2 separate regions of the Homo sapiens genome follow, and region 2 is linked to region 1. Evidence: fine-mapped expression QTL. A gene starts in region 1. The other region holds a variant in brackets. All regions are shown on one strand. Distances are between the middles of the regions. Region 1 holds the start of LHX6 (LIM homeobox 6). Region 2 overlaps MORN5 (MORN repeat containing 5).

What was found. PIP is the estimated chance that this variant, and not a neighbour inherited with it, causes the effect. A credible set is the group of variants that fine-mapping cannot tell apart.
Region 2: its variant is the best candidate, but not a certain one, in a credible set for the expression of LHX6 in nasal epithelium (TOPMed, PIP 0.58).

What each region holds. Positions count from the first base shown.
Region 1 is chr9:122,227,409-122,230,219 of GRCh38, reverse strand. LHX6 (LIM homeobox 6) reads left to right here and starts at 1,263. Exons shown (of 10, transcript NM_014368.5): 1 at 1,263-1,563; 2 at 2,740-2,811. The coding sequence starts at 1,480.
Region 2 is chr9:122,191,805-122,194,615 of GRCh38, reverse strand. All of the region lies in intron 4 of MORN5 (MORN repeat containing 5), which reads right to left. Among named protein-coding and RNA genes, the nearest start is that of MORN5, 33 kb to the right of the region's middle. The variant G/C (reference allele first, on the strand shown) is at 1,671.

The DNA of each region.
Region 1 (2,811 bases):
GATGTGTCTGCCTATAAATGCCTATCAATAGTTGTCTCACCATCTGTAAGGATGTAAGTACATATTTGAGGGTGCCTGAGTAGAGGACATAAGGTTATACATGGGTTTGGAGCTCTGTGAAAATCTGTGCCCTCTTGAGTATGGCTGTGTGTACAAATGGAAGAACAATTGTGTGTGGGGGGGTGTTTACATCTGTAAATGAGGGCAATTATGGAGGTGATGACATGTGTGATGTGGTGAGGGTAGGCTGTCATGGTGTCTGTAGGGCTGGATCTATGTCTGAGTGTGCTTATTTGTTTTTAGATGATGTATGTTTACATGTGTCTCTTTAGGCTCAGTTTGTGTGTGGAGAAGGGGGCTGAGACTCTAAGTGTCCACTTGTGTATGCTGCAGGGCGTTAGTGTGTGTAAGGCTCCATCTTTGGGTTTGAAGGTTCTGTGTCTGTGTGTCTGGGGGCAGTGTCTTCTGTCTAAATGCCTGGGCCTTCCTGCCTTCCCTACCATTCTCATTGTCAGTAGAACCCTAGAGAAGAAGGGATGGGCATTGGACTGTGTGGTTAAGCAAATCCTGAAGGGAAGGGGAATGTGCCAAGCAATCCCTTCCAAGAGAATTCAGGGAAACTACCCTCCCGTTTCACCTCAGTCCCTGGGAGCTGGTGCACTGTCTGGTTCTTATAGAGCAGAGGTATCTGTGCAGGTGTGTGAGAGTAAGTGTGGTGCCTCGTGCCCGTGTAAATGATGTGAACAGGTAATCACTTACATTAGTGTGTACACAAATGTACCAGGCATGGGATTGCATCAACACAGTGTAATAACGTGTGACCTCCTACGGAATCTATCTCCGCAGATGGTATGGCCATGGGTCCCTCCTGTACCTGTGAGTGGGGCAGTGTCTGAGGAAGATGGGTGCCCCTTGAGGGAGGAGCGGTAGTGAGAGCTGGGTGGATGTGTGCCCGCCGGTGCCTTTGTGTACTGGCGTGTCTCCGAGTCTCTCTGTCGGCAGCTCTGAGTTTCTGTGTGTCTCTGTGTCTGTGTGTGTGTCTCTCTCTCTGGGTCTCTGCCTCGTCGTGTGTGTCTTGCTCTCCCTTGGCGGGGAGGGGATTGGTCACGCATGACTCATCTTGAACCGAGCGGGGCTCCAGCGGCAGGGCGGCCGCCGTTGCAGCTGGAGGGGGAGGAGGACAAGGAGGAGGGAGAGGAGGAGGAGGACTACCAAGAGGGGGAGGAGGAGAAGAAGGAGGGGGCGGGGGCCTCTCCAAGTTTGTCGGGACCTTCTTCCGAGGCAGCGGCGGCAGCAGCCAGGGAGGCCGGGGCTGCGCGCGGGCCGGGGGCGGGGGCTGAGGCCGGGCCCGGGGCGGCGGGGCCGGCGCCTCGGCTCTCCTCCTGCTCCTGCAGCAGCCTCTGCTCCCACTGCGGCTGTGGTCCCCCTCGGCGCAGCTCTCCGCGCTGCGCGCCCGCTGAGCCCGAGGTTCCCCGGCCCATGTACTGGAAGCATGAGAACGCCGCCCCGGCGTTGCCCGAGGGCTGCCGGCTGCCGGCCGAGGGCGGCCCCGCCACCGACCAGGTGAGCCGGCGAACGACTGGGTGAGCGGCCCGGGCCGGGGTCGGGCAGGGTCCGGGACCCAGCCGGGCCGAGCAGGGTGGCGGGCGGTTGCAGGAAGGAGGGGTACGAGGGTGCGCCTGTGAGTGTGTGCTTGTGAGTGTGGGAGCGCGCGCGCGAGCGGGGGGGGGGGGTCGCGGAAAGCGGGAACACATTATGCAAATGTTGGAGGAATTTCTCAAAAAGCGATTTAGTAAAGACACAGGCGAATCAAGAGGAGGCGAGGCCGGTATTGTCCGTCTGAATAGGCGCTGATAGCGCCGATGCGCCGGGGGTTGTGCCGGCGCAGCGCTGAGAATCCCGACGCGGGGCCGGTACCCGGCGCGCCGAGGGGCTGGAGGGTGCTTTTTCCTCCCCTTGAGCGCCTCTCTTTTCTCTTTTTGGTCCCGTTTCGCCCCGATCTCGCTCTCTTTTTGCTCCGGGTTTCCCTCCGACTGGCCCTCGAAAGGCGCCTGAATCCGTGTCAATATAGCTGCTTCAATTTCGCCGCGCGTGTCAGGCGGGCGGGCGGGCGGGTGCTCACCGCGCTCGGGGTTTTCTTTTCTTCAACCACCCTCCGCCCCTCACCCATCTCTTTTTTATTTTCTTTCTTTCTCTCTTTTCTCCTTTTTGCATTTTGTGCCGAGAGGAGAAGGGAGCGAGGAAGGGGAGTGGGGTGGGGGGGCGGGTGGAGAGAGAAAAAATTCGATTTTTAATTACTACCATTAAAAAATCAAATTTGCAATTCTTTGGGCGGCCTGATGGATCTCACTGATTGACAGTTGGAATTGACACTCTGGCTACCTCTTATCTTGGGCATTCACGACAATTTCTAATTGCAGGTAGTTTGTGTGTGTGTGCGCGTGTTTTTCTTCCCCCCTCAGAGGCTTGGATTGCAAGGGAACTAAGCGATTACTTCAAGAGCCACGGGTTAAGTGCAGGGAGAGGGGGAGAGAGAGGGAAAAAATCCAATCCAAATTCAAATTGCTTCATTAGAGAGACACCGCTTTTGTGGGGAAGGGCTTTAAATGCCCACTACAAAGTTAGGACTCATTGTTCGGCGCCGGTTTATATAACAGGCGCGGGGAGGCGCTGGGCTCAGGCTGTGCGGAGCCAGTTCAGCAGCCGCCGCCGCCTGCGTTCCCTCCCCCCCTCCCCCAGGTGATGGCCCAGCCAGGGTCCGGCTGCAAAGCGACCACCCGCTGTCTTGAAGGGACCGCGCCGCCCGCCATG
Region 2 (2,811 bases), 36 kb after region 1:
CAGATGAAGTCTGGAATAAGCCTTTTTCATTCTGACTTGTGTCAATTGCCATCAACAAATATTCCCTATGCACCCCCTTCTCGGCATCCAGGTCTCAACTCAAATGTCACCTTCTCAATGACCCTAATCTAACCGCCTCCACTCACAGTCACCCCATCTTGTCTTCATTTTATTTTCTCCATAGCATAAGCCACTCCCTGCATATGTATTTGTTTACGTGCATGTTGTCTGTCTCCCTATCCAGACTGTAAGCTCCAGTGAGACCAGGAGCCCTGCCTGCTTGTTCACTATGATATCCCAGTGCTTAGGGGAGTGTCTGGCACATAGTAGGTTCTCAGTTGATAGCTTTTGAATTAATGAATGAATTGGCAAGCCCAATCCTGTGGCCAGCCATGTGGCCAGTGTTAGGGACAGGTGGGACTGAGACCAGCAGTGAGCGCTGCCAGGACCCAGGTGCACTTCAGGTTTAGGTCTATCTTTGGGGCCGAAAGATGTCTTTATTCCGGTTCTGAAGCTTTGGAAGTGACCTCGCTGCCACCTGCATGCCCTGCCCTCATAGGTCATTGGGATAACTGGGCTTTTTATAGAGAAGAAAAGAAACATATTGCAAGAGACACCCCAAATCTGACCATGGGCTACCCCAGTGAAAAACTTCCCTGAGAAGGCTCTCCACTCCTCAGCCTGGCCTTCAAGGTCGCCAGGTTCCCCTGCTTCCCAGGCCTGCTTCCCTCCCCGCTTCCCTCCCAGCTCCCCTCGCACTGTAAAATGCAGCCACCGGAGGAACTGCAGTAGTCCACGTGCATGCTCGCCAGTGCCTCTGTGCCTTTGCACTTGCTATTCCCAAGGGACCACCCTTCCTCCTTCAGGACCTGGTTTGGGTTCAGGGCCTCTCAGAACACAACAGAGACCCAAGGTACTTTCCATTTTGTAGTATTAGTGTATATAAAATTGAAAACAGGCCTAAGCAAGGTGCTAACAATTACAGTATAGTTTAAACATTTACATTTGACAAATTACTTTTTTTTCTTTTTTGAGACGGAGTCTCGCTCTGTCGCCAGGCTGGAGTGCAGTGGCGCAATCTTGGTTCACTGCAACCCCCGCCTCCCGGGTTCAAGCGATTCTCCTGCCTCAGTCTCCTGAGTAGCTGGGACTACAGGCATGCGCCACCACGCCCAGCTAATTTTTGTATTTTTAGTAGAGATGGGATTTCACCATGTTGGCCAGGATGTTCTCGATCTCTTGACCTCACGATCCACCCGCCTTGGCTTCCCACAGTGCTGGGATTATAGGTGTGAGCCACGGCGCCCGGCGGACAAATTGCTGCTTTTAACACAAACAACCAAATGTAATATGAGTGTATTATTCTAGGATTTCTTCCAAAAATGTATAAGTTCATAGTGTGCTGAGGCACTATGGTCAGGAAAGGGGGTGTGAATTTTGAGTTGTCTGATGAACAGGGTCACAATCCATACTTAAAGGCCCCATGAATGTGTGGGCTGGGCTTCATACTCTCTTGGCTGTCCCCTACCCCCACAGACCCTGCCCGGATGTTAGCCTTCCCTGAGCCGAAGTCACAGTGTTCGTTGTAGTCACCCCCTCCAGCCTGTACCATTTACTTTTGATGGTCAGGGCCCAGCACAGATCTAGCACTTAAAGTATTTCATAAGTAC[G/C]TGGTGAATAATGAATAAAGAAATGTAAATTTGGGGACATAAAAGCAACAGGTTTACCCTGTGGGGTTTTGACAAAGGGGGAGGAATTTCTTCCCCACCCTGGGCAAACAGAGCTTGTGAGAGGGCAAGGCAGGCACGCCAAGGGCAAGTCCAAGACCGCCAGCTGCTGGTTCCTTTTGTGATTTGGGGCAATAGATTGGGCAGCCCTACCACATGGAGAGGCTGGGTTGTGTGGGGTCATACCTGGGCACTAACCCCACTCAGGAAGCTCAAAGCCTGGCTGGCCTGGGACTTGCCTCTCAGTGAAGGCAGGGAGGAGCTGACCTGTACAGGGCACAGCTGTGCCGGGTCTGCTGAGCTGTGCCCAGGTCACCAGGTGACATTAGTGCAGCCTGCAGGTCAGTGCACAGCTGGGGGAAAAAGAGATCCTGAAAGTCTCAGAACAGCTGCAAGGAAATATCAGCTCTTCAGAGGATTCGCAGGGAGGGGGCAGTGTGGCATGATGGTTAAGAGCTTGGGCACTGGAATTCTGTCACTAGCCCACAGACCTTGAGCGAGTGGCCTCACACCTCCCTAGGTCTCATTTCCTCATCTACAAAGATGCCTGTCTTGAAGGCTTGCATGAGGACCAAGTGAGATCATTCCTAAAAAAGGTTAGCACAGCACTTGGGGCACAGGAAATGCCAAAAACCAAAAGAAACGCCAGAAGTTAACTTGTGAGGGTAGGACTTCAGGGCTCATGTGGCAACACAGCAAAGACTAGAAGGAGTTCTGGAGCCGAACAAGCCTGGATCCGATGCTGAGCCACCGACTCGCTGGGTGATTTTGGACACGTCACTCCCATCTCTGAGCCACCCTCCTCGTCTTTGTAGCAGGTTTCACCAGACTTTCTGCAGAGGGCAGAGTGAGGACTGACCAGGATGAACGGCCCTTGGTGGGCACCCAGGAATGGAAGCTACAATCACCATTGTGATAGGTCTTTCATTCCCAAAATGGATGCCTGTAAGGGAGCGTCCTTAAGGGACTCGCTCAGGACACTCCCAGGACTTCTGGTTCCCTGCCAGGATGGAGGGGGAGCCTGCGGGAGGAGGAGGTCTTCACACGAGGATCAGTGCCCTAGGATCAAGGGCCACAGCTCAGC